4 separate regions of the Homo sapiens genome follow, and all the other regions are linked to region 1. Evidence: fine-mapped QTL for protein levels in blood plasma. A gene starts in region 1. Each other region holds a variant in brackets. All regions are shown on one strand. Distances are from middle to middle.

Region 1 (8,109 bases):
AGCCTCTTCACACTCTGTATATCCCGTACAAAAGCTCCTAGAGATCTTTATATAAAATTTATTTTATTGTGTCATGTGTTTGCACAAAAATATTAAATGGCTTCTCCCAGTTACATGAATGGAACTGATATCCTTATTATTACATTCAAGATGCTCCCCTTGCTGGTTCCCATGGAGATTTCTAACTCCAGCTCCATCACAGCTTTGGGCACAATAGACGCTGCCATTTCCACAGTCCCAAGCACACTCTCTTTGTGTCCTTCCTCCAACAAGGCTTTGCCTGGATCATCTCTCCTCCCACATCACGGTCCCAGATACCCTAGTCAGAATTCACTGGCAGCCCCCTTAGTACAGGGGTTTGAGTCTATTACAGTGCTTTTCTGTCACTCCTATAAAGTTTCTTATTTATATATGTGTTCGTCTCCCCCATTAGGCTGTGGGCAAGAATCTGTCCTGTTGGTCTTTGTCTCCTCAAAGGTCCCCAGCCAGCACAATGCTTCAAACACAGAAAGGGCTAAAAATAATAAAATAAAATGGAAGAGGGGATGAAGTGTGGAAAGAAGGAAGAAAGAATAATATTATTGAATTTATAACCTGCTATCCCTAGTGCCTTGAGTGGTGTTTTATAGAATTAGAACTGGGAATCAACAGGTCTTAAAATATACACCCAGCTCATTTGCTGATCTTAACTAAGTTCAACAAGCACACTTGACCTCCCACTGCCATGAAAGGTGGTGTTACTCATATTCTTTTATAGCACAAAGGACTCAATATATCATCATTTATACAGAAGGGCCATAGAAGAGGGTGTGAAAAACTGATATCCTTTATTTACCCAACAAATTCATATTAACTAGTTTTATTTTTCCATCATTTTGCCTTGCCTGACTTTTCCCATTATCTCCTATTCTACTGCCCTCCCCCTATTTGCATTCTAGTCTGGGGAAGGGCTCTCTTTCCTCAACATTATTTCCTACACTTAAAACACAATTTACTGTTGATACCCACAGTCAAGTCCAGTGCCTCAAAACAAAATAAACAGTGTTTGAAATGGGATGGGGAAGGGGAGCATTGAGTAAGTAGGCAACAAAAACATACTCAGTTCTGGAAAGGGGTCGAGAGCCTTCCACAAGGCGGGCCAGGAAAATCCCCATGATGCCAGGCCACTAGGCAGTTTTTCCAGAATTACAGTGCTCCCGAGTCCCAACCCAATCCCTCTGCCAATAAAAGTACAAGTGAAGGTGACCCCACAGGCATAGAGATGTAAATACTCTGCAAGAAAGCAGGCCCCTCTTCCACGGAAAGTTGTGTTTTTTGTTGTTGTTTGTTTGTTTGTTTGTTTATGTTTAATGGAAAGCGAGGGGAAAACTTACACCAGGGCCCAAAGATCACTGGGATCACTGGACCAATAAGGAAGCAGCCTAGATCAGCCCAGTCCAAGCCTGGAGGGACAGAAAAACTCACTAAACATTTCTGACAAACCTTGTTCATGCGTAACAATGGGTGGGTTTGCCATCATTATTCCTATGTCTCGTCCGTCGTCCCTTTTATCATTTTCTTTTGAAATTTTGCATCCTATTCCATATGAGGAAATAAGAATTTTTAAAAATAATGCCATCATCAACAACAGCAATAAAAAATCATTCCAGAGTGTTTACTCTATGCCAAGCCCCAGGCCAAACTTTATGTGCTACATCTCATTTAATTCACATAGCAACTCTGTGAACTAGATGTTGACATCCATCCCACTCTCCAGATGAAGAAACTGAGGTTTGGAAAGGTGAGGTAGTTGTCTCAACTTCACCACCAGTTTGATTTTAACCCAAGACTGTCTGATGTCTGGGCCAAAGTTCTTTGCCAAAATGTTATGATGCCAGCCAAAACCCATGTCTTTCTTGGAAGAGCTCTCCAAATTCTAGACAGTTTGGGTTGCAAGATCAAAACCACTATAACTGCCTCCATAGAGAGCCTACATTAGCTCTGTGCAGGTTGAAAGGACTCTCTGAAGCTCTTGAAGGTATCTGTAGAAGTTTTTAAGTAGTAAACGTTTCCAGCAGAGGGAAACTCTGGTTTAGCAAAGAAGGAACTGACTTCACATCCCAGTTCTGTCTCTTAGTAACTGTGTGATCTCACGAGATTTGCTCTACTTCTCTGAGCCTGAATAAAGCATGGACGAGAATAACTCTCAGAACTAGTCTTTGTGAATTTGCCGACACAATCCTATACATTAACTGTTACCTTTCCCAAAAATTGTTCTGTTGAAAGGTAATTGGTCACATCACCTTCTAAACAGAGTAAAAATAAATAAATCTGATTGCTTCCTTAGTGAGCATCCAAAGTCTAGAAATGACCTGAAACAACTTGGAAAAAGCAAGGCAATCTATGTATTTGTGCATATACTGAGTGCAGTACCTCTCTGAACACATCTGGTCTACTTTATATCTTCTCTCTCTCTGTTTCACACGTGCATACACACATGAATTGAATCCTCATGCAATGTTATCTCCCTCATCCTCAAACATGTGCCTAACACTTGTTTAGATAATAGATATCTATTCTCCAGCCAGTTAATTTGAACAATGAAGAACATGAGGATTTTATGGAGATAAGACACCAGACAGAATCTAAGATGCTGGGAGCTCCTTGTTCAGCGATATTAGATTTTTGTGATTAAAAAAGTAGAAGACAGCAGACAAGGTCTCTCTGTCTTCACTATTTGATTGGCTCCAAGACAGGTGGAGCCCTGATTCTTGTAACATTGAATTTCATGTTGCTTTTTATGAGCAAAGGGTCCATTTCTACATTGCACCTCTGGATTTTAAAGAGGAAATTTCAACCTCAGAATAATGTTTTTTGCTGAACAAAATGTACGCCAAACTAAGCTCTGACTTCGGGTTTTCTGAGTCCCAGCCTCCAAAGTTTTCTCAGGTTTCCAGTACTGGGCCCAACTCACTGGCTCCCGCCATGTCCTCCTATTCTACAGTTAGGTGGAAAAGGCTGAGAAGATCAAGCACCACACTTCTCATGTGTGCTTGGTGGACCTAGGGATGTCCCAAAGATCAGAGAATGGCTTCAGTTTCATTTATCTAGGTGTGGCTGGCTCTCTTCTCAGCTGTACTCCAGGGCAGGCACCAACGTGTTTTCCTAGACATTATGGGAAAAATAATTCTAGCAAGAAAGTGGGAAAATATCATACAAAAACAGTAATAACTGTTGGCTTCCTTTCCTCGGCCCCATAAAAGACCATTTTGTAAGGTAGGGAAAAGTTATGCTTTGCTTTCTGACTAAACAATAAAGCACATGCAGTTTAATCTCAACTGCCTACCCAGTTCCCTAGATTTTAGGACCATGATCCAACTTCTCACCTACCCCCTCAAATAGATGAACTGAAGCTTTTTGGGCCACATACTTTAAAACGAGATTCCATCACCAGCTAACAAACCAGTTATTCTTGGACTGGGACTGGTTCTGGCAAGATGCTCAGGTCTACGCAGAGGATGATAAATGAGAATAAAATTATTCAGCTCTGCTTACAGTGGCCACTGCACCCACTGTCATCCTCAAAAACTCCACAGAAATGAGCTCACTCCAACCTTTGAAACATTTCACAGCTTAAAAGTTTAAATCAGGCCAAGTTGATTTTTGTGGGGTTTTTTAAGCTTTTACTCTGTAATTATATACAGGACTTTGTGCCACCTATTTCCTCCCAACTGTAACATTTTACATCTTTTTTAAGCATACGTTGACGTTAGCTTTTTCTTTCTTTTTTTTTTTTTTTTGTACATGTTATGAAATAAGATATGAGCTTATACTCAGCCTTAGGTACCTTTCTGCCAAAAGGCTGGACCAACACAAACTAAATATGACTATTTTCTTTATCCAAAGTACAGTTGAGACTATTACATACCCTCTTAATGTACATACATAAAACCAGCTAACCACTAACGCTCCCTGCAGGTCAACTGAAATCATAACGAGATTTTCCTTTCATATAATGCGATTAACAAATGTCAACTAACTGAACTCCTGAAAGACTCAAAAGAAAAAACAAAATAACCCAAGGAACGCCAAAAGGTAAAATAATTTGGATGTTCTTTCTATTTTCTCCTTACTTTCTCACATCTTTAACTCAACAAATAGGCTGTTTCTTATGGTTATAGGCATGTGCTCTAGAGGCAGACAAAACTGAGACAGTTTCGGCTCCACTATTTACTCAAATGCAACCTTCACAAGCTACTTAGCCCCCTATGCCTCAGTTTCCTCATCTGTAAAATAAAGGTAAAAGCCCTCAAAGGAGTTTTGTGAAGATTAAATGAAATAATGCAGGCTTAGATGAGGCCCTACAAGCAAAAATAAAATAAAATAAAAATAGTACACATAAATGTTTACCATTGCTATTATTATCAATTTGCTCAATAGGTCTACCTTCCAGCCTAGGTACAAAAATGCCAAGTAGCTTCCTGGCTGTCCGGAGTGCTTTGAAATCCATGAACTGCAGTGGGTTCGTGGAAATGTACAAGAGTGTTATACAAAGAGATAAGTGGTCATCCATCTATTATTACTCAATTTTACCAAGTCATTACAAACGTTTGGGAAGCAGCAATGACTGTGACAACTTGGACCCCATAATTCTAAACCCCTGCAAAGGTCATGATAACATATCACTGAGCCTTTCAGCCAATGAAAGAGCTCTGTAATGGGTGAAGCTGATAGCCAAAGTCCTAATATTACACATTTAGAAAGGATTTCTGACAGCACTCACCCAAGGCAGATACCTACAACTGTTACTTAAATGTTGAAGACATAAATAAACCTACTGCCCTTCTGAATTTAATTGATACTTTTCTGTAATAAATATCACTCCCACTTGAATTCCAACTGATGCATCTTTTCAGATGTAATCTTTACCTTCAAAACTGCAGGACTCTAACATCTATCTTCTTATCACTAAGTCTCCACTTTCAGAGAAAGGCACTATTTTTAGCAGGGGTAGGAGTACTGAAAAGGGGGGAATGCTGTGGGGAGAATTTCTCATAATGTTATTTGGGAACAGTTTACAAAACTCAAACTACATACGTAAGCTTGATAAGTACTAATATTGCTGAAGTGAAAACAATATATTTATATGCAAAGCTCTCGGCACATTTAAATATTACTTGGTCAAGGTAATTTCCTCTGAAATCTTAATAGATTAAGATAAAATAATTCACTCACATTACACAGATAAGAAAAATAAAAAAGGAAGATTAAACACACATACACACACACTGCATTTGTAAATCTACAACTGAGTCAAAATTTAAACTGAAAGCTTCTTTTCAACAAATTATTTACTAAAAGATCATCAATGAACACAGCAACCCATAAATATGCAATCATAATACACCCTCTCTCAGCTCTGTTTTATTAGGCAGCAATATTTATTGTGTCAGCAAACGCAGTGCGTTTTTACTTGTTTCTGTTGATTTCCTTAGTCTTCCGAACCTGATAATTGTTTGATACAGCCATTTACCTTCACCCATTTATCACTTCAAAACATTGACCTCAACTCTTGTCATGAAAAAATTTATGTAGTATAAACTCAGATAGCTTGGCTTTTGCCTAAACCGAAATGAATTCCTTCTCCAGCGCCACACAGCATGCTGATCTAGCAACAAGTAGTCCTCTATCATTCTGGGGCTTTGCATTTGACTGCCTTAATGTATTTCCAACAAGGTTTTATAATGTGTAGTTTCTAACCAAATTTTGCCAAAAGTGATTGGCATGTAAAACACTCCTAAGCAAAAATGTTTACCTTGTAGGTCTATATTTCATCTCAGAAATTCTTATTCACATTACTTAATCTCCCCCAAGTGGTTACTTATTAGACTTATCATTAACTACTAAACTAAAATAAATGGAAACAAATTATTTTTTGAGTCTTCTAACCACTGATAGTGTTAACTAAGCAGCTGACAGCCAAGTGTCATTCTCTATTAAGGATGGAATTGTCCTTTCCGACTCATGCTTCCAAATCAGAAATAAAGACAGTATTTGAGGGTTTAGGGTATAACAGGCAAAGAAACCCGAGAAAGAAATCCAGAATTACATCTTGTCCTTATGTTTGTTTTTTGTGGCTGTCACCTCTCTTTCCCTTTGTCGCATACCTTATTCCTGACCTTCATACTTAAATCTTATCTCATCATTTTCCCACTGAGCTTAAATGACAGAACCAACGCAGAAAGTTTTGTTGTCCCAAGAATTTGGTTGTAGTAATCATTACTGGAAACAGACATTACAAACTGTCATTTCACCGAGACGTCATACAAAGCCTATCTGAAATTTACGTCTATAAGGATGATGTCAAAGATAAGAATTTCCAGCTGGATGAAATGGAAATTGCCAAAGTCCATAAAACTCAGAAATTAACTGGATTCAACTCACAAACTATGTACAGTTATGTGCAATTTTGTAATGATAAAGACAATTTGTAAGATCTGGTTATATTATCACATTTAATGGATTCACCTTATCAGAGAGAGCAGTTGAGTTCATATTACCTGATCTCCACACTTACCAAGCAGACACACATTATGCAAGGGTTGTCTGTGATAAATGGAATCTGGAGGACTTCACCTTCATTTTCACATTTTGCAACAGAACCTGAAATTCAGGGGGGAAAAATGTTTCATTTAAAGTTAGCTTAGCAGCATGATTTCAACATTTAAAATTTTTACACTAATCCTTTTTGAAACCTCTACCCAAACTTCAGAATTCTTAATGTGGTTTAAATTATTAAATTCACCAAAGCAAAACCTCTGCCCCCAACTCCATTTTCAATAATTTTATTTAAACAGGTTCAAAAAAGAAAAGACTATGATATAGGGATAAATTATCTGTTCTCAGATGGTCTAAGCACAATTCCAAGTATTTCACTGGATTTTTAATAACACTCCTCCTTTATGAAGATATTTCAACTAAGCACACAGCCCCATACGCAAAGAAAAAAATAAAAAATAAAATTTAAAAAAACCCTCAAATTGGGGCAGATTTTAAATTGACCAAAACTCAGAACTGAGTCAATAAACAGGCCTTTCTATGAATCTGTCTCGCATTGTCTTAGGTTTAAATCACTTTTTGAAACGCAATCCCCTTTTCCCTTCTCTTAGAAATTGACTCCATATTTTCTTTTCTGCACCAGGTGTCAGTAAAGTATGTCCTTCAGAATAGCAGCTGAGGTCTTCACCTGCCTGAAAACATATAATTATTATATCCGGCTATTAGTGCCCTTTTTAAATGATAGTTTCTTTAAATTCAAGGTCTTGAGAGCCAGTGCTTTAAAAAGCACTCCTAGCACAGTGGATGTATTGCAACCCCAAAGATGAGAAAGGAAGATGTGCGGAAAACTGCACAAATTTTTTTCCTGAGTTCTACAGAGGGAAAGATTAAAATAAAAGTTGAGGAAAGCATTAAAAATAAATAAAATAATTTCTCAAATTCAAATAGAAGAATGTCTATTATTACTACATTGAAGGCAACAGCCTCTCAGCCCGCAACCTCTTCACCAGCCTTCCCAGCCCTCCCGGGGCTTCGCTTCATCCCCATCGACCAGCGCAGGGCAAGCGCCAAGGTGCGCGCTCCCCACCCTCCCATCCCCGGGGCAAGCCAGCGCCACCTTTCCCAGGTACCAAACCGGCGTCCCGGAGGGCCGGTCCCTCCCGCCCCCTCCCCTACCTGTCAAGAAGGAGGAAGCCAGAGACATGGGGACCCCCGAGCAATTGAGTAGCAGCAAGACGCAGCACGTAATCCCAGGCGAGCGGCGGCAGTAACGCTCAGCCAGAGCCCCGACGCCGGAGAACCAGAGCATCGTCACCTGGAGGGAATCCCTGGCGACTGCAGGTCCCGCGCCGCCGCCTCTGCTCAGCTGCCGCAGCTCACAGTCGAAAAGGGCTCTCAGCCGGCGTGTCGGGAGACCGTCCGCGAAGGAGGGAGGCGGGCGCCCGAGAGCTGGGGGGCGGGGGGGTGTGAGGGAGGGCGGGGGGAGAGACCAAGGTGTGGGGGCGCCCGGGGAGGAGGGGTCCTGCGGCCAGGCTCCTCCGATGCGGCTTTTTTTTTTTTTTTCCTGAGGGA
Region 2 (8,109 bases), 37 kb after region 1:
TCTAAGCCAAGAAGATTCATCACTTACTTTATATAAACCCCCAAATTTCCTCCTTGAACCACTGCTAATTTTCACACAGTGTGAGGGATACTGCTGAATATAAACTTGTCGGGTAGAATATAGAGAAAAGGCAAATCCAGAGTGATCCAACAGCATTCCCAAATGCATCCAAAATACTGGAGTGCAGGACGCAACCAGGATTATTTGAATTCCATTTGGATCCCCATAATTCCATTCTTTTTAAAAACGGGTCATCCTTTTCTTTATTATAATGAAGCATTCTTTAATATTTCTTGCCTCTCTGGTTGAAGATGCTTTTGAAAAGCAAGACTTTAGTTGTATATTTTTTCTGGATTCCCTAGCAATATATTTTGATGCAATCATTGAAAAATGTCATGCTCTCTCTGGGGTCTTCGCAGTCAATGGTAACTAAACATTTGATTGAGAAGTGTACTTTCTGTGGACTTTTTTAGGGTCACTGCGATGTGAACAGAACCCAGTAGAATTCACTTCTGCTGTTTCATTTTAAAATAGGGTTGAGAATGGAAATAATGCCTTTCTAAGTGGAACTGAACTTCAACTTTGAAGGGATGCTATAGATTTCTGAGGGAGCAAGAGCTTGTGTCTGGAACCCAGCATCTCCATGTGGTTAACAGCTTCTAAAATTTATCTCATGTGTTTAAGGTTTTTTGTATAAATTTAAGGGACTTCACATTTCTAACCAGTGTGTTAACACTTAGATTAAGACCACACTTACACACCCTTTTCTTACTTAAGAGCAATTAAATGGTGTACTAACAAGAAGAAAGTTACTTTATTTACAGTGTTGATGGAAAAATATTGGCAATGTGATAACTATTACTATAAAAATATGATTTTTTAATACTTCTAAACTAACCTTTGAAAAAGGCTGTGTCTTTTTTCTTTTTTTCAAGGCAAGGTTCTTGGAACCACTTGGTGAGTCTATATCGAATATTTTACTTTCTTTTTTCTGTGAGACAGCAAAAAGTTCATCCAAATAGAACCATGCTTCTACCACATAAATCACTCAGAAAATCTGGTAACTTTCCATGTGATTCAGTTAAATCCTTTAAATCCCACAGGAGAATTTACTTGCTTTTGGCATATTTCACCATATTAGGAGGAAAACCAGTCTCCAGGGACGTGGTGGTTAACGTGAATGGGCCAAAGGCAGATGTCCTAAACTCAGTTTTGTTAGCTTAGGCATTTTCAGATGGTGTTTCTCTTGGTCAAAGTTCCTCGAGAAGTTTCTTTTCTGTGTCCTCCGTCCCCGCTTAGGTCCCCCACAATGTCTTTAAAAGGACAGACCCTTTCCTTTTATAATTAAATATAAGATTTAAATGTAGAGGGCCGTTAACATGTTAAACTAAACCCAGCCTTACCTAACACCAGGATGGGTGGGTTTGAGTGCACAGCAAGAGATGCAGGGAGAATAGAAGAGAGCAAGACACTCGCTGAGAAGTGGAGGGGCTGAAGGAAGCAAACCAAGTCTTCTCCCATTTCTCAATTTTGCCCAAGGCTGGCCCACATGTTAGTGGATTCTCTGAGCTGAGATAGAAATCCACCTTCTGGAGGCGGTTGCTATTATATGGGTTGTGCAAACTCTAAACAACTTTACTCCAGAAGACTTTTGCATCCTGCATATTTTTAAGTTTTATTACATAAATATGAATGCACAATGCCCAGGAAAGAGGTGTTCTGTGTCCTAAGAAGAGTCACTGTTTGTTCATAGATGCTCAGGTCATGACTCACATGCTTTTTAAGAGACTTTTCTTTCAAGTGAATGTAAATGGGGTGGAGGAAGGGAGAGAGGGAGACAAAATCAGGGACAGAATGCCATCCACTATAAATTATATTGATGTCACAATGAAAAGAAATAGCTCCTCTGCAAGACTTCACATATTCAAGTCAACAAATGGCTAAGTGTTGTAAATATTTCCCAGTTCCATGGGTTTGAGAGTAAATTTTAAAAATCATATTGGGGCTCTCTGCTAAAGATAGTAGAAGTCCAGCCTCTCCCAGAGTCAGACTGGTCATTGGTCATCTCCACTCCTAGAAGAGTTTCAAACATCTGTACTTTCAGACTGGAGGAAATAAGGTAAGGAAGGAAACAAAAAGGAATGTTTTCAATGTGTGGCCTCTTACTCTACCCTCTTGAACAATCTCAGTAGATCCTGGTGAGACGCCCCTTCCCTTTCTTTTCGAGAATTTCTTCGATAGAAAATTTAGCATAGCAGAGCTATAGAATTTGGAGAATTTCTACATATATGCTTGATCTCTTTTGAAACTCAATAGACCTGCTAGCAGGGTAAAGAAGAAAAGTATTGCATTCAGTCTAACCCAAGGGGGACTTGGATCACCTAACCCAGATTCCCCAGGGCTCATGCTGAGGCTCATTCTTCCTTAATTCAAAACATGGGCTGTGTCTTGAAGTCTGAATGCGAAGGCTCAAGTTAGATAATAAGGTGCCATTTGTCCAGGGAGAAAGACAAAGCAAAACAGAAGAATGTGAGTAGATACCAAGGCATGCCAAAGAGTTTCCCATGCTTGTTGCCTGAGTGTAGTTAGGTGAAATACTTAAAGCCTGCCTCTGTGGCCTGAGCCCAGGCAGCCAAAGTGGGAGAAAATTGCTCCTTCAAAAGTTAGTGCTTAAATTAACTGCCCCCATCTCCACCACAGCCCCAGGTGTTGTAAAAACTGGATTAATCTAAGGTCTTTTTAACCCCCTACTTTGCATACATATTTAAATTCTGGGGCTCTAAGCCAAAATTCCCCAGTGGACCACCTTATCCTTTGTTAATTGAAAAAATAAACAGTTCTGTGGTAGTGGAGAGGGGTGTTTTCACAGAAATGTCTTTGATGCTAAGGCTGCTTTAGGGATACATTTCCTGTGCCTTCCATGAAGTATAGCACAAGACAAACTCAAGGACCTCAAAAAACAAAGGGGCAACCAATAGTCAGGACCCAAAGTGTTTTCTATAAAGGCGATTGACGGGTGGTTACACTTACCCTGACTCAGGTTAAATCCAGGAATGGTGAGGGGTTTGGGGAATAACAGCCTATGCATTCAACACTGCCCAGAAGTCAGAGCTCAGCACAGTGTGGGTGTGACCAACACATGCACACCAGGCTACCGCTTCTCCTCTCTTGAAGTGGTGACAGCTTATGAAATTCTAGCTGCTACTGCTGATTCAGCGGAAGGAGTCCATGGAATGTTATTGCCAACCACTATTTCTCCATTAACTTATCTATACCCACCATGGGTCATGGGAAAGAAAAGTTTATCAATATTGCATTTGTTTTTACTTGGTGTGAGAGGTGGAGGGAAGCTGGCATGTGCCTATAATACACAGTTATATTAGATTGACAGGATTTAAATAAGC[G/A]TGAAGACCTAGCGGAGTGTTACTTTCCCTTATGCAAAGGATTTTTTCCAAAGGGGTGAAGAACATACATTCTCAAGGTATCTGCTGGACCCCTATTGACTTCTGTAGGGATGGCACTGTGTCTGAGAGGCCAAAGAAAAGACCTACAGCCAGCGAACGAAATACAGGCTTTATTGAAGACTTACCTATCGGGTGGTCCAGGGACAGCGGATTAGGCAGGAAGACCCACTATCGTTTGTAAAAAGTATGCAGTGTATATAGCATTTTGGCTTAGCAACCTCCACCTAGCAACCTCCATTTAACCCAAAACGAAGGGCCTTCCCCTCCCCGGATGGCCTGTATTTCAAGGAACGGGCCAGGAGTTCAGATATTCTTCGTAAAGAAGGAGTGAATCTCCAGGTTGGCCACTCCCGTATTCCTTAGCTTGAAACTGAAACAAAATTCTTCCTAGATCATACGGCCATTCTCTGGGTTTGCTTAAGTTATTGCTGTCAGGTGCATCTGCCATACACACGGTAGAAAGGGACACTTTAATGTGTGGTAAAATAAGAAGCATAGTTTTGTAGACCCTGCAACTGGATGGACTAACCTGTTAACAGGCCTACACCAGTAATCTGAGAGCACACAGTCCAGTGTGCTAGCTAAAAGCACCTGTGCTGAAGTCAGGCTGCCTTGGGTTCAAATCCTGACTTCTGCCACTTAGGTGAGTGACAGTCTTCAGAGTCTCTAAGAAGCAGACCCCAAGGCAAAGATTCAAGTGATCCATCAACAAAGAACTCCCCAGGGAAAGTGGTAAATGAGAAGCCCACTACAGAAGGAGAAGTAAAGAGGTGTGATTTTGGTTGAAGGCCAGTCACAACCTGATTCTCAGGGAGCTCAGGAGTGTAAATTGCACCCCAGAATTCATCCAGAGGCAAAGAAGCTGATCTTTGGTTCACCAATTGGTCATCAGCTAGTAGGTGGAGGTTCAGTAATCAACTCCTGGATGCTTGGCTACAGGTGAGGCGGCTATGGCAGCCCACAGGCAAGCCTTTGAAGAATTTTCCAGCCATAAGCCCTTGGCAGCAAGGCACACGGAACTGGGGAATGGGTGCAGAGCACTGGTGATCATGACCACATGGGCACTTGACAGGGGTGCCAAGGGTGTTCACTGTAGTGAGTATGGACACACTTCCTAATTTCTCTGGGTCTAAGTTTCCTTCTATAGAAAATGGGGACAGGGTCGGGCATGGTGGCCATGTCTGTAATCCCAGCACTTTGGGAGGCTGAGGCGGGTGGATCACCTCAGGTCAGGAGTTCGAGACCAGCCTGGCCATCACAGTGAAACCCCGTCTCTACTAAAAATACAAAAATTAGCCACATGTGGTGGCACGCCCCTGTAGTCCCAGCTACTCAGGAGGCTGAGGCGGGAGAATCGCTTGAACCCGGGAGGCAGAGGTTGCAGTGAGCCGAGATCATGCCACTGCACTCCAGCCTGGGTGACAGAGTGAGACTCCGTCTCAAAAAAAAAAAAAAAAAATTGCTAAGGACTCCAAAGAGCTTAGTTTATGTGGGGTATAGCTATCAATATTTTCCATATTAGAAACTGAAACTGAGAAAAATTTTAAATATTAATTACTTAACTGTAAAGTAATAATTACATGTTAAAGTAAATTACACATTTTATGAAAAATAGCTATATTTTCCAAAACAGAAAAAAATGAGAGAATAGTGGCATTGTTTTACATGTTTTCAAATTTCTTTAATATCTGGTTCCGTAAAGATAGCAGGATTCTCCTCTCTGCTTCTGTGTTGCTTACTTTGCAATATGTTGTTTTGGTTGAAGTATAGAAAGAAAATCCAGCTTCACATAGTTATATAGTTGGAAAAGCAGGAATATGTTCCAATTTTCTCAAATAATTTTAGGTATTTTTCTTTCACTATACTCCAAAACTCTACACATGTTAGTTTTAATAAAGGTGAGTTGCAGAATAGAATTTGAAACCAGGTAATTGAACATTTTATACTCAATTACATTAAATCCATTGCCTATCTTTCATGTTGAGTGTATTATTTTATCCACACATGATTTATAACCTAATATATTGGAAAATATTACACTGAATTATGCAAATCTTCCCAATGTTGACACGTTTCATTTACAGTATTTTAAAATACCATTTATAAATAATGCCACTGATCCTATCAGAAAACTCTTTAAATATTGAGAAACTTTCAGGCTCAGAGTAAAAGATAAAAGTTTTCCAAATTCAATTTTCAGTTGAAAGCTCAGATTTGCACTGTTCTAATTACCGTTGAGACTGAGAAGCCATCCCTGGCCCTCCCAGGCTGGGTCAGGGACCCTCCTGGAACAGTATCCCTTCCTGGCCTCTGGCGCAACACTTGCCACATTCTATTGAGATTATCTGCTTTGGTCACTGTGTCTCTCACTAGACCATGAGCTCCTTCCAAGCAGAATTATGTCTTCTATCTCCTTGTCCTTAGTACCTCACACATAAACATTACTCAGTGAGGGAATGATTGAATAAATCCCTGGGAGTGATGAATGCACTGACTACAGGAATCTGTCTCACATTCCCAGACAGGAGATTTTGTTATCATGTAAATCCTATGCATGACTGAAAATGTAAGCCGAGCTGAAGTTGCCTTACAAACATAGATGTCACACGGGTGATGCAAAAACACACACCAAAGAAATAAAGGTCTGTCTTCCTCTGGGGCAAGGGCCCAGAATAAAAAGGCCAAATGGAAGCAGGGACAAAAGACAGACCCTGTGAAGTGGGCAGCAGAGTGGGTGGGTCATACACGGGGTGTGGAACCATTTGTGGGGGAAGGGAATAGAAGGAGGTTTGAAAGGAAACAGAAAATAAGGAATGGGAAGCACAAGTCCAGCCAGAAGAAAAGAAGAAAATAGGAGGCAACAAGACTAAAGGATGGCAGAAAAGTTGAGGAAGAAAAGAATAACCAGAGCCCAGCCCTCGCTCAGCAGCCACAGACAGAATAAGAAAGGGGCAGAGACAGTAAGGAGAGGTGGATGTGAGCACAGCAGATGGACGGCAAAGAGAATACTTTGAGATATTTTCCATGTAGAATTTGTCTACCCGCTAAATTCCTCACAGTCCCACCCCACCTCCTGGCCCCAAATTAATGTTTATTTGTGCAATGAAATTGTGTCTCTGCATTTGTCTACACTGGAAAGAAGGCCTTCTCTTATCCAGATATTTTTCTACTCACTTTGAAGAAGCCCTGAGCGACCTTTTCTGTAGGACCACATTTACAACCATCTACATTCGGTCCATAATGATTTCGTGTATTTGTCCTCTGTGTCCAGGACCCAGTGGTTGTACTGGAGAATTTTATCCCTAAGCCCTGCCTGACAATACAACGAAACTGACATCAAGGACGAGTGAAGAAACAATGAACCAGACAGTCTATAACCAGCATGGAACACTATTGTGTGAGTCAATGTCTTCTGATGAACATCTGTTCCATGGCATCGTAATAGTCATGGCATGAGAATAAGTTAGGGACACTCAGGGTTAAAGAAAATTCAACAGGCTTCTTTATTGTAGGGATTCTTAAAGGTAATCTTCACTTTGGGAAGACAGCACACTGTATCTCCCCAGTTTATTTACAAACAAGGCCTTTTTTTGCTGAGCCAATATCTCTCAGGATAAGCCCCTGAAGACCACAGTTTGGAAACATTAGTATAAACTCTAATGGCAGAGAGAGGGTCTGTGAGGCCTCAGAAGCTCCTGGACAGGTTGGAAAGCCACAGACTTAAAAATAATTTCTAACAAGTGTTAAGATATTTCTGTTCCCTTGGGGTCCCTTCTGCAAATTTCCAATAATCCATTAACCTAGAGTCAGTTTTTCAGGTTAGGTTATTACCACCATAGACAGACCAAGGCAGAGATGAAGTCCAAGGCTAGAAAATATCAGAGGGAGTTCTTCCCCATGTCAGGTGCGCCCTCTCCCAGGTGCCTGCATGGCCGACTCTCTTTCCTCCCTCAAATCTCCTCAAACATCATCTCTTCATCGGGTCCTTCTCTGATTGCCCAGTCTAGAATTACAGACCCATTCCCCTGTGCTCCTTCTTTCTGCTGCATTTTTTTCTATCCTCCTTCTCAACATCTAACATACTATTTAATTTAGTTATTTATTTTGTTTCATTACTGTCTGCTTCTACCAGAATGCAGTCTCCAAAAGGGCAGGAATTTTCATCTCTCTTGCTTACAACCGAAACTCCAGCATCTGAAGCAATGTCTGGGGAATATCAGCCACTCCGTAAATCTTTGTTGAGTGAATGAATAAATGAGTACGAGAAAGAAGGAATGCTGGGTTTTTAGTTGAGGTTATGGAGCATGTTTTACATTTCTTTGTCGCATCCCTCCATCCTCCAGCCTCTGAGCCTCTGGGTCTCAGCAGGCTAAGCAGTCACGGAGATCACATTCTGATCTTGTGACACTGCCCCAACTCCAGCCCTCTGAAGCCCTGGGTGTTTGGTATCCTGGAGGTGAAACAGCAGCAGCCTTTGCGTTTCCAAGGCTGTGTCACTCAGCGACATCACACAGCCACCCACAACAGGCCAGCTTGCGAAATTGTTAAGGAGCCTGAGGATATTATTTTCATTTCCACACAAACATAAATGATCAGATATAAGCGTGGAGCTGCTGCTCTGGAAAATAACCATCAACCATCAAGG
Region 3 (8,109 bases), 130 kb before region 1:
ACTATGAACTAATGCCCTGTCTTGAGAACCAAGCCTGAAACAAATTCCTTTTATTTTGCATGCCAATTAATGTTTCTAAGTATAACTGCATTATTGTTATTATTGTTTATATTATTTTATTAAGTTTTCTATTGCTGCTATGATAAGTTACAAATGGAGTGTCTTAAAACAACACACACTTATTTTCTTACAGTCAGAAGTCTGGAATCAGTTTCATGGGGCTAAAATCCAGGTATCAGCAGGCTGCATTCCTTCTGGAGGCTCTAGAGAAGAATCTGTTTCCTTGCCTTCTCCAGCTTCCAGAGGCAGCCTGCCTTCCATGGCTGATGGCCCCCTCCTCCATCTTCAAAGCTATCAGTGCAGCACCTTCAGACCTCCCTCTGACTGTGCTCTCTGCTCATCATCACATCTCCTCCGACTCTGACCCTCCTGCTTCCCTTTTATAAGTACTATTGTAAGTGGGCAGCCCACCCAAAGAATCCAGGGTCACCTCTCCATCGCAAGGTCCTTAACTTAATCCTATCTGCAAAGTCTCTTGTGCCATGTAAGGTCACCTTCACAGGTTTTGGAGATTAGGACATGGACATCTTGGGGCCAGGGGATGCATTATTCTGCCTACCCTAATTATTATTAAATAAATGACATTTAATTTCTCTGTGTAGTCCCAAATGTCATATTTCAGGCCTAATGTGACTACAACACACCTCACCAAAAAAGCTAGTGTTTCTAATGCTTTCCTAAGGAAAAGATAGCCAAGAAGCTCGATTTAAATCCTGGTCTTATGGCTTGCGATCTGAGTAAGTTCACATCCACTTATTTTTTCTTCTTCCTGCACCCATGTCTAGTTAGAAGGTGAAATTCAAACCAGACAATCCAATGTTTTCGTCTTATTCGCCCTCTCCTTTTGTCATAGGCAAATTATAAGCGCTGATGGACAGCTTCAGGAGCAACTTTCGGTGTTAATGAAGTAAGAAAACTGTCTTTGTTGCCAACAGGTCTTTTCAGGGGCGCTATGCCAGTCTTGCTGGCCAGCACCAACCCCTTAAGTTGAAGTTCCCACTAAGCTGTGGGACTTGGCCAGGCACCCTCTGGCCCAGGCTACAGAGCCCTGCAGGGACATCAATGTCCTCTCATGGTCAGCTAGATGACTCCCAAAGAGTTTAACCATGTTTGCTATATTTCAAGATTCTTACAGAAAAATGCCTCAACCGGTCTCGGTGGAGGGGTTACAGAGCAGGCACTGTGAGGCCTCAGCCTGTGAATAGCACAGCTAGATGCCTTCTTTCTACAGCTGCACAAGTGAGCAGGTCCAGCCTGGCTATAGAGACAGTGTTAAACTTCAACTGCATACAGCGGCAGAGCCAAAGATCATAATTTCATAAAGCAAATATTAGATTATTAAATAAATACATGATGGAAATGTCTTTACCATAGTTCCACTAATCCCTTTTTTGTTTGTTTGTTTTTAAGAGACAACTTGTCTCTCTCACCCAGGCTAGAGTGCAGTGGCGCAATAATAGTTCACTGTGACCTCAAACTCTCAGCCTCAAGCAATCTTCGTGCCTCAGCCTCCCAAAGCACAATTACAGGTGTGAGCCCCACTGCCCAGCCACTAAACTCCATTTGAAAAGGGGATTTGGTTATTGTGTTTGCTTAAGTCTCATTTTTAAAGGTAAAATTGGCCTCATCTTCCCCTTGGAGTCCTTGATCTTAGCTCTTCCTGCCACTTAGCTGAATGGCAGTTTTCCTTGTTTGTTTGTTCATGTGTTTGTTTTCTTTTACGTTTTTTCTTTGAAAAAGAAAGAAATTCTTCTCCTTCCACCAACTCAGGCTTTCCACTCAGGCAGACACACAAATCACTGATGAAAGACTGCGATATTGTTTGAGGCAAATTCCAACTGGTTCTGGGTGTCCACAGCTATTTTACTTTCCTCTTTGTCTATTTTAGAATGAGGAAGATAAGCCCACCCTATAGGCCCAAGCTCAGATGAGATCTCTAAACAAATGCCCTGGGAACCGAGAGGAGAGGCAAAGCTCTGGAAGTCTGAGTAGATTTGCACCCCTAGATTGTGTGGTGTGTGGAAGCAGGTGCTGAATGATAGCTGGACTCAGTGATCTGCCCCCAGCAAGGTCTTTCCCCTTCCAGGGCTAACTGAGCTGAAACTGGAGGAGAGGCGGGGCCTGCTGATAAGGGCCCTGACAGCCAGCTCCTGCCATGCCTCTGAGCCTGGGTGTTCCCTCTCTGAAACGATCAATAAATAAACAAGTAAATCCACAGGAGAACACCTCCTAATATTTCAGATTCCTGGAGACCTTGCAGACCACCCTGGTAGGATGTTTCTCAACTGCTGCCCAGAAACAAACAAACAAAAAAAAGTGAAAGGAAGAAAATGAGCCCTTTTCCTTTTCTTGCCATTTTTATCAAAGTTCAAACTTTCATCATCACGGAAGTAGTCAAAGCTGTTACAAGCCTACTGCTGACACATCAAACGCTTTATCTACAGCCTGGCCCGCTTCCAGGCAGATGAAAAGAACAATCATTTAGAACTCACACCTCCTATGAGTTATGAGCCATTCCTAAAAGGAAGGAAATAACACCATTATGCAGGAGAAAGGGCATTTTTTCATGTTCCCCAGGCTATCTACATCACAACAACATTGGATAGGCACTAAGAAGAAAGCCGAACGGAGGCCTTTGACTGCTCAAGACTTCTACAAATACGGAACTGCAGAGACAGAAACCCAAGACATCACCAATGAACTGTTTTCCTAAAACTTTCTGTTGACCTTTAAGTTCTGGCTACCTAAAATAGTTTATATTGTTTTATTTTGTTCCCACAATGCTTCATATGGGTTTATCGTTTGTCCCAAAGTAGGTTGAAGGTTCACAGAGGGCAGAAGCCATATTCATTAATATTTCTTCTGTCTTCCACAGTGCCTAGCCACACAGTGAGGCCAGAGTAACATCAGAAGTGTTTGGTTTTCAGTTAAACACCTTCTTGTTGGGTTGTCAGTTAAAGCTGAAAATAACTCAAAAATGTTTGTGCTCCATTGAGGTTTCTTGAGGTACAAAAAATATCTGTTATCTTGACATGAATGACTCTTAATTAAGATATACCTGAATCTCTCTCACTGTATTGACAAAATTATACTTAGAAGTCTTTGAGGTTTTCCTTAGTATGCCTGAGCACACTACGGAAAAATAAGATTACATTTAAACTTCATTTTCATTTCTAAATAGCAATTGAAGTCACGGCATCCTTTTTGTTCACCCTTTCAATATACATTTGAGTTTCTGTATGTCAGACACTATGGTCTTTAAATGAAATAAATCCAAAATATCTATTTGGTATCCATTGTTATGTGCAGTTCTCTAATTTGTATCAGGTGGCAATTTCCTAAAATTTTAACAAAATCTAAAATGTTGTAAGTACAATGTCATGAAGTTCTATAGTAAACACTCCGTGGCCTCCATCAAGGAACACTGCGCAGAGAGACTAGAGGTTTCCGGCACTATTCATTCAAACTCATGATGCTCCTGGGTATTGGTCTTGTCAAACAATTTTAAGTTTGTGTTTTGAGACAGGCTGCAACCCAATCTTGGCAAGCTCTTGGGAC[T/G]ATCCTAATCTAGGCCATATATGATCAAAGAAAAACAAGTGTACAGTCTGTTGGCACCAGCTGTGGTGGGGGGTCCCAGCATGAGCCAAAGCTAGTGTTCTGACATGTCTGGGCAGGTCCAGTGAAAGGGAGAGGTTCACTCATCGGCTTCTCCTGAGAGAAAATCCACCCTGAGGGAGGAAGAGATGAACAACAAGAGAATCACCTACTGACTGAGCCTGACAGAAGGAACATGCTATCACCAACATAACTTGGCATCTGTCACTCACATCATCCCAAGTTCAGTACCACAGATGCCTGTATTCTCCTAGAGGAGAAAGAATACTGAAAGTAAAAGCACAAAAGAATTGTTTAACTAAAATCTTTGTGAGATTCAAGTATAGGCCCTACTGATTTAGGTGTCCTATAATTGAGTAGAACACAGAAAAAGGAAAGTGATATTGGCCCTTGCCACTTCAGTGGAGACTTCCATACTGCTTTGTCATCTGAGGCCTCCAGGACACTAGCTGAAATGTGCAAAGATGGTGGAAGTAGTGGCTGTGCCAGGCTGAGAACCAAAGTGCTTGGAAAAATGGTGGCAACATCAAACAGAGGGCACAACAGCAGACAGACATGGCAGAAGAGGGAATCTTTTCCGGCTCAGGAAAGTGGTATTTCCTCTATCATGAACTCCGACTTTCTAGGAAGGCTCTCCATCTTCCTACTGAAAGATGATCTATGTCAGCAATGCTCAGCATTTGGCAGTATAGCACAAATCCACAAGGCATATTCTCTGACAAATTGATTCATGTATTGGCCAAGCAGAAAGAAGAAGTGTTTGGCCAATAAGTTATATTAAATTGAAGTTCTCCTGGAATAATATTAGGCCAGGTTCAGAAGCATTGTCTTGTAATCTTGGCCAGAACATGCTGAGACGCCAGAAGGGAGTAGCACCTCAGTGAGGCCATGGCTGGATGGAAAGCTTATGATCATGGGTGAGGTCTGAGTGGACCACAGCTCCGTAACTGTGACAACATGCTTAACTCCAAAGGTCTTTCTCAAGAAGGATGGAGAAACACAAGTCTAAACCAGTTAAATAGAAGAAAATTCTACCTGAACATTCTTAGTTAGTACCTTATTTCAGATAATGATACAGAAAACGACAGCAGTTCAGGACTTTTTCTTTTTAAGACCATAACTAGAAGGATAGAAGTTTAAGGGCTTACCAGAAGTACCCTAAATATTGCACTAAAAACCACAGACAATCCTGTGAAGATAACGGAAGACAAGTGGAGGGCCACCTTTGACTAGAAATCCAGGAATGCCCAATCTACTTAAAAGAGATGTCAAGGCTTCTGTGGTCAATGCCCAAGGGCAAGTCCCTCAGAAAATGCCCAGGGCTCTCTTCAAAGACCAGTATTGAAGGGGAATATTCTTGGGGCAAATGTCCAGAATTAAGGGACATAGAAGTTCAGAAAGATCATCATTTTATTCTACCAGCCTAACTTAAAGTTGATGGTAGTGTCTTAAAAACAGGCAGATTAAGTGAAAGCTTACATACTGAAGGCTGAACACTTAGCTTTTTTTTTAACCAGGAAATCCAGAAAATCACTTCTTAAGGTGGTCTATATTGTTTATAAAGAGCCTCATCCATTGGTACTACATGTGGTTGCCAAGTTCAGAGAACTGATATAAACAAATAACTCAATGTGCATAATCAACTCATGATCAGAACATTGCTAGCTCCGAGTGGCTGAACATATTTTTGATGTGAAGAATGTCCTGCACATTCCCAAGTCTGTGAATTATAGATATTGTCCTTTCAGTGAGGTATTTCTCTTAATATTTAGATGGTACATTAAATGTTTTTTGTTATAAGTAGCTACCTGATAAGTGTTTATGGACTCTGTGAATGAAACTCTAAGACAAAAGGTCTCCATCCTCCTTCCAAAAATTCTTGAGGTAGAAAATAGCTCCCATTTATATTATATACTTTGCCTAAAATGCATTGTGTGGACTTCCATATACAATGACCATTTAGTGTTTTTGTTTTAGGAAAGTGTTTCCAGTGGTCTAGGACAAAAAGTATGATCTACTGAGCCTTTGACCTGGTTTGGCCTGTTGCAGCCTTGAGGATTAATTCTTGTTCCCTCTTTCTCAAATCCTCTCAGCCTCTAACTGTGAAATGAAAAGTGGCCCACTCTCTAGAATCAGTCCTGCTGGAAAATGGTTGTTCTCACTCCAACACTAATAAAACATGCCATGGTAGGGAAACGGGAAACCACTAGAGCAAAGTGTTCAACATTAATATTTCTTGGAGGGTCTGATGAATTTTACTTTAAAAAGCAGAAGCATTCTTAAAACTTGAGAATGAAAGGAGCAGTGTTTGAAACAAAATTGTTCATGGTAAAAATATTAAAGGATTCTCTTCTCAAACATTCCGAACTCCAAAGGGTACACAGTTACCCATGTAGCCCAATAGTATAAGCAAAAAGCTACGAATCTGTGTAAAGAGGACATTTCTTTCATCCAATACTTAATATGTGAGGTGTCTGCATCAAAATACTCTTGAAGACTCCAAATCTTCTCTATCATTCGATTTGTAGAAATAACAATATCCATGCATGCGGAACTTATACCATACTCCAGATAATGGGTGATGAATCAAAACTTTGAGGAAAAATAATGACTTTAAAATGTTATGGAAACCCTACTTCCTGATGACACGAGAAGATCTATGGCTTAAACTCAATACAAACCAGGAAATCGTTCCAGATTCTAAATCAAGGAGGAAAGCTGGAAGTACATATGGTTAAGGGAACAAACTCATGGGGTTAAGAGCTCCTTCAGATTCCCAGTTCTATTCCTTGCTGTATTGCACCAAAGTTAATTAACTTCTCCTAAGCTTCAATTTTTTCATTTGTAAATTGGGAAGAACAATAGTATTCAGTCTCATAGAGTTCATGAAAAGAACAGAACAACTGAGGTAAAGCTTTTAATTCAGTATCTGGCACATAGTAAATGCTCAATAAATGTTAACTATTTTATATATATATATATACACACACACACACATATATATTTATATATAAGATATATTTATATATATGTGTGTGTGTATATATATGTGTGTGTGTGTGTGTATATATATATATATATATATATATATATATATATATATATATATGGTCAAATTAATTTTAAATGCCATGCAGCTCCATAAAATAATAAATGAGTTACCTTGGGGAGTTTATTTAATTGGAGTCTTGGTTATTTTATCTCTAAACAATGCTATTTTCCTCGCAAAGCTGTTGTGAAAATTATATGCAACAATGTGCTTAAAGTGCCCAGCACAGTGCTTGCTCTATAAGTGTTATCAATTAAAAATGAACCTCTGGCACCCTCTTCCCCACCTCACTGTCCTTGGGTTTAGCCAGTCAAAGTATATTTCACTGGCCAAGAGAACGGGGCTATGAAAGGTACAGAGCTGTGGTGACTTTTCCTCTGAAAAGTTAGGAGAACATTTGTGTTTTCCTTGGCACCAAGAACACATGGGTAGTCTTTGGGGTGTACAGTAGTGTATACATCACCCATGTATTTGCATAAAGTTTCAAAGCACTTTCTTGATATATGCAGTATGACAGCTGCTGTCACAATATATTTATATAAGTTCAACACAGATTTTATAAAATAATCTTGCAAGTCTTTGTTTTCCTAAGGAGGGGTTTGTTTGGAGGCTGGGGGATAATCATTTCATCTCACTGTGAAAAACAGCACATGCTGACACACATCCTTTACCAATGACACAAACAGATTGGTGTTCCCTATTAACGTGTGAGGCAACCCCGCAGTTATAGTAGGCCACTATTACCATTTTTAAAATGTCTTTTCTGAAAGAAAAAAAACAGCACTGATGGATGCAGTAACCACAATCCATCTGAGGTCTAGAAGGAAGGATGAAATAGATAACTGTGACTTTTGCACACAGAATTCTTCCAGCTAATTGTCGTATTCCCAGCCTGGCTGTCCTTTTGTCCACATGAAGGACTTGACCTAACGTGAAAGACAATGAGAATTCCTTGACACCTGCCAACATTCACCTCAGTCTTCCTCAGAGACACAAGTAGCTCAGATTAGCCAAATCTTTCCATCAAAAAAATCAATGTATAGGGAGGCACAGTGTCTCAGGCCTGTAATCCCAGCACTTTGGGAGGCCAAGGTAGAAGGATCATTTGAGACCAGGAGTTTGATACCAGCTGGGCAACATAGCGAGACCCTGTCTCTACAACAAATAAAAAATTAGACAAGCATGGTGGCAGTGCCTGTAGCCTCAGGTGGGAGGATCACTTGAGCTCAGGAGTCCAGGTTATATAGTGAGCTATGATTGCACCACTGCACTCCAGCTGGGGCAACAGAGAAGACCCCATCTCGAAAAAAAAAAAATCAATGTAATTTCTATCAATAATCTCCTGCAGCATCTTCTAAACTAGTACTTCAGAGAACCCTGTTTCA
Region 4 (8,109 bases), 150 kb after region 1:
GACTGATCTAATTCATTTCTTAGAGAGATTTTACAACCGATCTTTGTCATCTATTTAGCTAATATTTTCCACAGTCAGAAGAATTATCTTCCTCTGCATTAAGCTCCAAGTTGCTCTGAGACCTGATTTAGGGGGGTCAGAGGAACTGGACTAAAGCCAGGGTCATGGACTGGATTTGTCATCTTCTCCAAACATCTTTACATTCAGGCCAGACACAGCTCTGGGGAAGGAAAGCCACAGAACTGTAGATGGGTTCCTACGTTCTGTACCAAGATGGGGCTCCCACCTGGATTATGCCTGGATGGCAGCTGGCAGACACCTAGCTACATTCCAGCCACATTCAGCACCATTCTGGGGGAGATGAGGGCCTCCCTTCCTTTTTAAAGACCACCAAACTTCACTGATCCACACACTTTTCACTTTGTGGGTCACAGTTGATCATAAATATAACACGTCTGAAATCTGTGAATTTACGTTGGGTTTGTATCAATCGAGCCATCTACCTCTGGACCACTTGGGTGATACATCAGATATAGTTGGACTTTGCTCTCTTCCTGAATTCGCTAGAAACAGTTTGGGGCACATGATTAGGAAGATGTTTATTCAAAGGTAGAGTTCAGGGAGGAAAATATTATTAGGTGACTGTTGGGATTGGCTCATTATGCAAAGACTGGCTTAGAATTGCTTTTATCATAAAACTTTCACTTCTTCTAAGTTTAGTCCAATAACAAAAGTCTTCCTGTGGCAGTGGAAGGAGCCAAACAATAGCATGCTTTGTCTTTGGACTCACGAATTTTATTTCTAAGGTGTTGGGTGCCATTGGTCCTTGAGCTATAGTGCTCACTAGACAATGGGAAATTATGTAGACGAATTGAAGGACATAGCCTATATAAATTCCTAATCTAGTAAAACTTCAGCTCATGCTAGAACCAAACTTGTCTCCAAGGTTTTGAGCAACATTTGGTCTTACCATCTCTTCCTCTCTCAGGCACATGTGGACTGCTGGGTTCTAGGCTAACTGGAAAGGAAACAAAAGCTAAAATCTTACAGCCAGAAAACCTGTTTATATTTAATTGATAGTCTTAAAACTTGTGTCTGGGAGGAAGTGTGGTCTAATTGTTACAACTGTGAGCGATCCCTAATTTCATGAGTCTAGTCTCTTTTACTATTACCAACAAATCATACAAGAACTTCGGTGATTTAATTTAAACCAAAATGGCCTAGTTTTCTTGGTGAATGATAAGAACCTAGAATTAAAGACGTTATTCAGGTGTAAGTGTTATTCAGGATTAAATTCTCCGAAATGGAGAATTAAATCCTGGGCAAGGAGCTTGAATTTGTGAGCAAACGACCAAGAAAGAGAACCAGTAGGTATTGCTTTTGGAGAGGCAGCCTCAGCATCCTGATATTTACAAAATTTCTACCCAGGGACCCAGGAATGAATTTGATTCTCAAAAAGAGTTTAAAGACACCCCTCCCAGAAGTCTTTAAAGGCAGTAATGAGTATTGGTGAACAATTTCCATTACTTGAAAAAAAAAACCTTGATAACATTACATAGGCATGCTATCTAAAATACTAAATGTCTTTAATTTTTAGCTGGAGAAACATAACTTACTTGATAACACATATTCTGAGCAGAAGCTCTGATAGTCTTTGATTAATGAAAACCCCCAAATGAATTTTTATTACTAATTAAGGTTTGTTTGCTACATTAAGTCATTTAAAATACGGGGACTATGAGGAAAGAATAATAATAAAAAAGGTACTTGGAGGAGATATTTGCTTGTTGGACCATTGGCTCGTTAGTTTGTTTTGAGAAGGGTTGGAGAAATGAAGGAAAGAACTAAAATGAGTGTGAAAAGAAAAATAGAGTACAAAATTTCAGTTAGATGGCAGGAATTAGTTCTACAGATCCATTGCACAATATTATGACTACAGTTAATAACAATGTATTGTATTGTATTGTATTTTTGCAAATTTGCCTAGAGAGTAGATTTTAAATGTTCTCACCACACAAAAGATAAAAAGTGTGTGAGGTAATGCATACGTTAATTAGCTCAATTTAGGCATTCCACAGAGTATGCATATTTCAAAGTAACATGTTGTATGCAATAAATAGATGCAATTTTTATTTTTCAATTAAAAAAATAAATTTTTAAAAAGTAAGCAAGTAAAACAGGAACAAAAAGAGAATAGTCAGCAAGCAATCCACGAAGCATTTATAAATTGAGTAATAGATTATAGCGCCACCTCGTGGTTGGAGGAGTTTTTGTTTTGATCATTCATTTAGGTTTCATTCCCCTATTGTTACTGCAACAAAGATAGAAAATAATTACTCTCTAAATAGGATGCTTTAAGGGCAGGATACCCTAGGTATTGCCAGGGTGCCTTCAAGTGTGTTTTACTTACAAAAATATAAGCCCCTGAAATGCTGATGGACCACAACTTGATACTTTCCAGAGTGGCAATTAGGAGGCTTTTTTCAACAGAATTTTCTTCCTAACAGGTTATGAATAATACATTGCACCAACGTATAACCATTGTGGGTATACATTGTTACCCAACACACAGGCACAATTCTGCTTGACAATAGACTATGCCTCCTAGTAACCTGAGGCGAACCCAGCATACGCTCAGCCGGCCTGCTGCCTGCTGGCCTCCCCAGCCAAACACGTGGCCAACACCATTCATCAACTGGAGAATTTCACCCAACGACAATCTTTCTCCACACGGCATTCCAGGCACTACTACTAATACAGCAACTTTGACATAAAATCCTATTTGCCTACCCAGCCTTAAGTCAGAGATGTCACATAAATTTGAGATCTCACTCTTGGGAGGCAGTGAGGCACAGGAGAAACACTGTGTGTTGACAGTCACCCTAACCTAGTTTCATCTCTCAGCTCTGTCAGTCACATAGCTATGTGTGCTTGAGCAAGTGACCTCGCCCCTCTGAGTCTTGATTTTCCTCTTTCTTTTTTTCTTTATTTTTTTTGAGATAGAGTCTCTCTCTGTCGCCCAGGCTGGAGTACAGTGGCACGATCTCAGCTCACTGCAACCTCCACCTCCCGGGTTCAAGCGATTCTTCTGCCTCAGCCTCCCAAGTAACTGGGACTACAGGTGTGCGCCACCACGCCCGGCTAATTTTTGTATTTTTAATAGAGACAGGGTTTCACCATATTGGCCAGGCTCTTCTCAAACTCCTGACCTTGTGATCCGCCCACCTCGGCCTCCCAAAGTGTAAAACAAATTACAGGCTTGAGCCACCACGCCCAGCCTCCTCTTTCTTAAATAATGATTATATCACCCAACAGGATTACTGTCAGGATTAAGTGAGATAACATTTCCAAGTCAGGCAGCATAGTGCCTTGAACTGAGTATGTGTTTAGCAAATGCTAATTCCCTCTCCTGCCAATATTAATCATAAAAGGAGTTACGCATCTTACTTTGAACTCCAAATTCTCTCTTTGGTACCCCCTATCAATCTCCCCAGTTTTGGCTGTTCAGCTCTTGTGTGAACAGCAGTCTCCCTTTATTCGTGGAGAGTACATTCCAAGACCCCCAGCGGATGCCTGAAACCTTGGATAGTACTGAACCCTATAGACACTGTTTTTGCCTATACATATATGCCTATGATAAATTTATAAATTAGGCACAGGAAAAAATTAACCATAGTGAAATTAGACACTATAATAAATACTGTAATAAAATTTATATTAATATGGTCTCTGTCTCTCTCTGTTTCTCAA[A/C]ATATCTTAATGTACTGTACTTAACCTATTTTTGGACCACAGTTGAGGTAACAGAAACTTGGGAAAGCTAAACTGTGGATAATGAGGGCCAACTATAATTAATTCCGAAAATAAGTAAAGCTCGAGAAGAGGAATAGATTAACTCTATTGTGAATTTTAGAGCAAGTTAAAGAACAAAATACAGACTGAGAATTGCCAAACACTTGGTCTGAGCAGTCAATTCTCATCCGTGTATAAGCTTTGACCCTATACAACCAACAAGTGTTAACAATCCCATTGTGCTCAAAGTGGCCACCAATCAGACAGTTAAACCTATGAAACCATGAACATAAGCCACCAACGCAAAGTGAAAAAACTCAGTTAGGAGGCACAACTGAGCAAATTCACCATTCCCCAGGCCATTTCTGCCCAAAACTCTGGTTCCACGTTCTACGACAATGGAATCATTTGCCCAGCAACCCGGCTTTACCATGCAATCTTCCTCTGCTTCCTTCCTTTGGAATAAATAGAACTTGTCCCATGCTCTCTGTGGCTGATCCCCAGTGCAGACGCCAGCTTTCACTGATTTCATGAGTACAGAAGGGAAAGCCAAAAAATCAACAAAGAGAGAAAGCTACTACCTTGATCTATTTCTAAACAGCAACTCTGCTGTTTTTCATGGGCAGACGGGAGCTGTGAATGTAATTGTGACCAATGCTGAGATTAAACCCATGAATGATTTGGCTTGAGCTTTTAAGAGTGATCAAAATTGTGGAGCATAGCCTTGTTTACGGGTTTATAGATCTGCCTGGGGCATCCGACGCCCTTGACTATGATTTATTATTACAGGACAGAGATTATCTCAGACTGGGCTGGAAATGGATCTTGGCTGAGTTATTTAACTCACCGGATGCAATGTGTGAGAGTTGATGGCCTTGTTTCTCAATTTGTCAGTTGTAAAGGGAGTCCCCAAGGCTCAATTTCAGACCCAGTATTGTTTACATAGCCCGGCAATAATACATCACATGTGGCAAAATATTACAAATTCATTTTTATGCTGATGATATGGCTCAGGCATAATGGCAGCTAATGTGCTGCTCTTTTTATTTGAAATTGCAGCTACGTCTCTAAAGGCACAAAGGGGCTTTTGTGTTTTGAACCATAAAGAAGAGAATGTATATGACAGTTTTTAGAAGGACTAATGAATGGTTTGATCAGGCTCGGCTGCCATCTGTAAAAGAGTCCCATTATAGCAGTTACGGTCATTATAATATCATACTATCTGAAGGTATCTGTCAGGATTTTTTCATACTATTATTATTATTATTATTGTTTGGGAAGCAATGGAAAACGGCTTTCCATTTTGCTATTTGTATTTAGATGATGGGAAAGGAATAATTTGAACAATGATTCCCATCTGGAACTTTATTCAAATGGCCTGCACCAGTCATATGGAGATGACACTTTGGCACATACGCGAAGTACCAAAGGGTACACTGTGTTTAAAATTTGGAGAAAATTCTCCATATAAATAAATTCACTATGAATCACAACAAATTGCCTACCCACTGCTTCTGAAACATCTTTAGCCGGAAAAACACCAGCACATTTTAAGAATACAGAAATGCTCCCAATGAGGCAGAACTGCATTTCATTTTTGGACTTAGAAAGTAAGAATGAAAATCATGGGCATCCATATCAAGAAAGAACAGTGCCTTTTAAATAAGATTTCATGCTCTAGGACACTAACAAATCAAAAAAATAAACAGATAAAACAGCAAATTCCTCAGGAATTTGGTGTGTTTTAAAAGAACATTTACAAAAAGGGAAAGAAAAAAAGACAGAGTCACTTCATATTTTTTTCAGATATTTTCTAGCCCTACAAAGCCCTGCCTTTTCCCACACGGAAAGACAGCCAGTGGCTGCGTGGCCACGGGTAATTTGGATTTAATTGTGTTTGCTTAAGCCATACATTCCACTCCCAAACCATAAAAACGAATCCTAGAAATCACAATAATTTGAAAACTCTGGAGTCTGTGTCCTGTTTGCTTTTTCAAAAGAAGATTCTCAGGAAAGCTTTATTGCAACCTGTATGTTTACCTTTGGGATCTTCCTAAAACACAGTACCTCCTTTAGAAGGATGCATGGAAGATCAAAAGACGCAACTGCAGTGCCTCCAAGTAGCACTGTCAGCCCATTGCTAGAGGAGGATCTCAGAGAAAGAGGGCTGGGTTTCCAGGGCCTTTACTCTCATATGTAGCCATTTACTTCTTTGACAAATATTTACTGAGTGCCTACTATGTGCTGAGGAGAAAAGGCATCCTGGCGAGAGCACAGGCTTAGAATCTGATAGGCCTGGGCTCAATGATTGGCTTTGCAGTTTTCTAAATGGGCAGCCTTGGGCAGATTAGTTAACCCCTGTATGCCAGGCACATAGTGGAAAGTCAGTGGAGATTTGTCAAGGAAATAAATAAATAAGTTTTTGTTTCTTCATCTATAAAATGTGGCTATCAGAGCCTGCTTTGTGGGGTTATTGAAGATGTGATGAGAAAATGGATAGATCGTGCTTTATTGCTGTTGCTGTTTTTCCATTAGTATACAGTGGTCCCCGATCTTTGGTACTGTGGAGAAGGCAGACAAGCAAATCAACAATTATTCTGCAATGTGGCTGAAAAATAAACTAAACTAGGGGTGGGAAAGCACAGTGGTGAGACTCAGAAAAGGCTTCCCAGGGAAATGATTCTCGAGCTAAGGTTTATCAGGTAGGTAAAACCCAGCCAGGCAAAAGAAGGGAGGAATGGCATTCCAAGCAAACGGATTGGAACCCAGTGGGCAAAGAGGCAGGAGGGAGGTCTGTGTCCTGACAGGTGGCTTGATGTGGCTCAACTCCCAGGCACACGGGGGCAGATAATAGGCTAAAGAGATAGGCTTTATTCAGTCATTTTTCTGGGTCTCAACCTTACATTCTTAATCCAAACCAAACACCAGTGATGGAGGCACGGGTAAGAAAGAAACTTGGTCAGGCACAGTGGCTTACACCTGGAATCCCAGCACTTTGGGAGGCCAAGGCAGGTAGATCACTGGAGATTAGGAGTTCGAGACCAGCCTGGCCAACACGGTGAAACCCCATCTCTACTAAAAAAAAAAAAAAAAAACAAAAATTAGCTGGGCGTGGTGGCACATGCCTGTAATCCCAGCTACTAGGGAGGCTGAGGCAGGAGCATTGCTTGAACCCGGCAGGTGGAGGTTGCAGTTAGCCGAGATTGAGCCACTGGACTCTAGCCTGGGCAACAGAGCAAGACTTTAACTAGAAAAAAAAAAAAAGAAAGAAGAAAGAAGAAAAGAAAGAAAGAAAGAAAGAAAGAAAGAAAGAAAGAAAGAAAGAAAGAAAGAAAGAAAGAAAGAGAAAGAAAGAAAGGAAGGAAGGAAGGAAGGAAGGAAGGAAGGAAGGAAGGAAGGAAGGAAAAGAAAAGAAAGAAAGAAAAGAAAGAAAGAGGGAAGGAGGAAGGGAGGGAGGGAAGGAAGGAAGGAAGGAAGACTTGCAAGCAGGAAAGCGTCTATTGCCACCATGGCTGTAGGGCAGTGGGGTGGTTCCAGGATTCAGCCTTCACAGAAGCCACCAGAAAATCTACAGGAGTCAGCAGGAAACCTGTTATTTTCCTGAAGCACCCAACTCTAAATGACACTTGAAATCTTAGAGTTTTAATATCTTTATCCTAGTATTTTTAGTCCTGAATTCCTGAACTTAATTGCTAATCCCATCTACAGTCACGCATTGCTTAATGATGGGGATATATTTGGAGATATGTGTCCTTAGGTGATTTCGTTGTTGTGACCATCACAGAGTGCATTACACAACCTAGATGGTAGGGCCTCCTACACACCGAGGCTATGTGGTATGGCCTAGTGCTCCTAGACTACAGACCTGTACAGCATGGTCCTGTACTGAATACCGTAGGCAACTGTAACACAGCAGTATTTGTGTATAAGATATCTAAACACAGAAAAGATAGAGTAAAAATACTGTATTATAATCTTATGGGCCCACCATCATCTATGTGGTCCTGTGGTTTAATAAAACATCGTAATATGGCGTGTAACTGTAGATTTACATTTTCAGCTTTTCATCTATGAGCATTTTATCTTAATATTTTACCTCCTCTATGCTTATGCTTTTAAACTTTTATCTTATTAACTTCAAGCCTCTTATCTTTTATTTTAAATATCATTCATTTTATCACATGTACCTTATCTTACAAACATTTTAAATTTTATTTTCAACTAATACTTTGTTTTTCTTACATTTTTTTTCTGGCAGTGTTTTAATTTTATTCACCTTGTAACTTTCTAGCTTCTTTTTCTTTTAAAAGAATTTCTTCT

Direction of the effects. Positions count from the first base shown, and alleles are read on the strand shown. Strength reflects both the effect of a copy and how common the allele is.
With allele A in place of G in region 2, the plasma level of the protein whose gene starts at base 7,921 in region 1 is higher (weak association).
As copies of T replace G in region 3, the plasma level of the protein whose gene starts at base 7,921 in region 1 goes up (moderate association).
For the plasma level of the protein whose gene starts at base 7,921 in region 1, A is the high allele of the variant in region 4 and C is the other (moderate association).

Evidence for each region. A credible set is the group of variants that fine-mapping cannot tell apart. PIP is the posterior inclusion probability: the model's chance that the variant is causal. The UK Biobank Pharma Proteomics Project read protein levels with antibody pairs (Olink). The fine-mapping took linkage between variants from a reference panel, not from the people measured, so its PIPs are less certain.
Region 2: its variant is the best candidate, but not a certain one, in a credible set for the plasma level of the BMPER protein (UK Biobank, PIP 0.51).
Region 3: its variant is the best candidate, but not a certain one, in a credible set for the plasma level of the BMPER protein (UK Biobank, PIP 0.76).
Region 4: its variant is the best candidate, but not a certain one, in a credible set for the plasma level of the BMPER protein (UK Biobank, PIP 0.80).

The regions. Positions count from the first base shown.
Region 1 is chr7:33,905,351-33,913,459 of GRCh38, reverse strand. BMPER (BMP binding endothelial regulator) reads right to left here and starts at 7,921. Exons shown (of 15, transcript NM_001365308.1): 1 at 7,714-7,921; 2 at 6,557-6,642. The coding sequence starts at 7,846.
Region 2 is chr7:33,868,127-33,876,235 of GRCh38, reverse strand. The region is part of intron 1 of LOC124901613 (a long non-coding RNA gene); the gene reads right to left. Among named protein-coding and RNA genes, the nearest start is that of BMPER, 33 kb to the left of the region's middle. The variant G/A (reference allele first, on the strand shown) is at 3,405.
Region 3 is chr7:34,030,559-34,038,667 of GRCh38, reverse strand. The region is part of intron 6 of BMPER (BMP binding endothelial regulator); the gene reads right to left. Among named protein-coding and RNA genes, the nearest start is that of BMPER, 130 kb to the right of the region's middle. RefSeq lists an enhancer at 3,070-4,269. The variant T/G (reference allele first, on the strand shown) is at 3,619.
Region 4 is chr7:33,751,906-33,760,014 of GRCh38, reverse strand. No RefSeq gene overlaps it. Among named protein-coding and RNA genes, the nearest start is that of FLJ20712, 30 kb to the right of the region's middle. RefSeq lists an enhancer at 7,856-8,109. The variant A/C (reference allele first, on the strand shown) is at 3,751.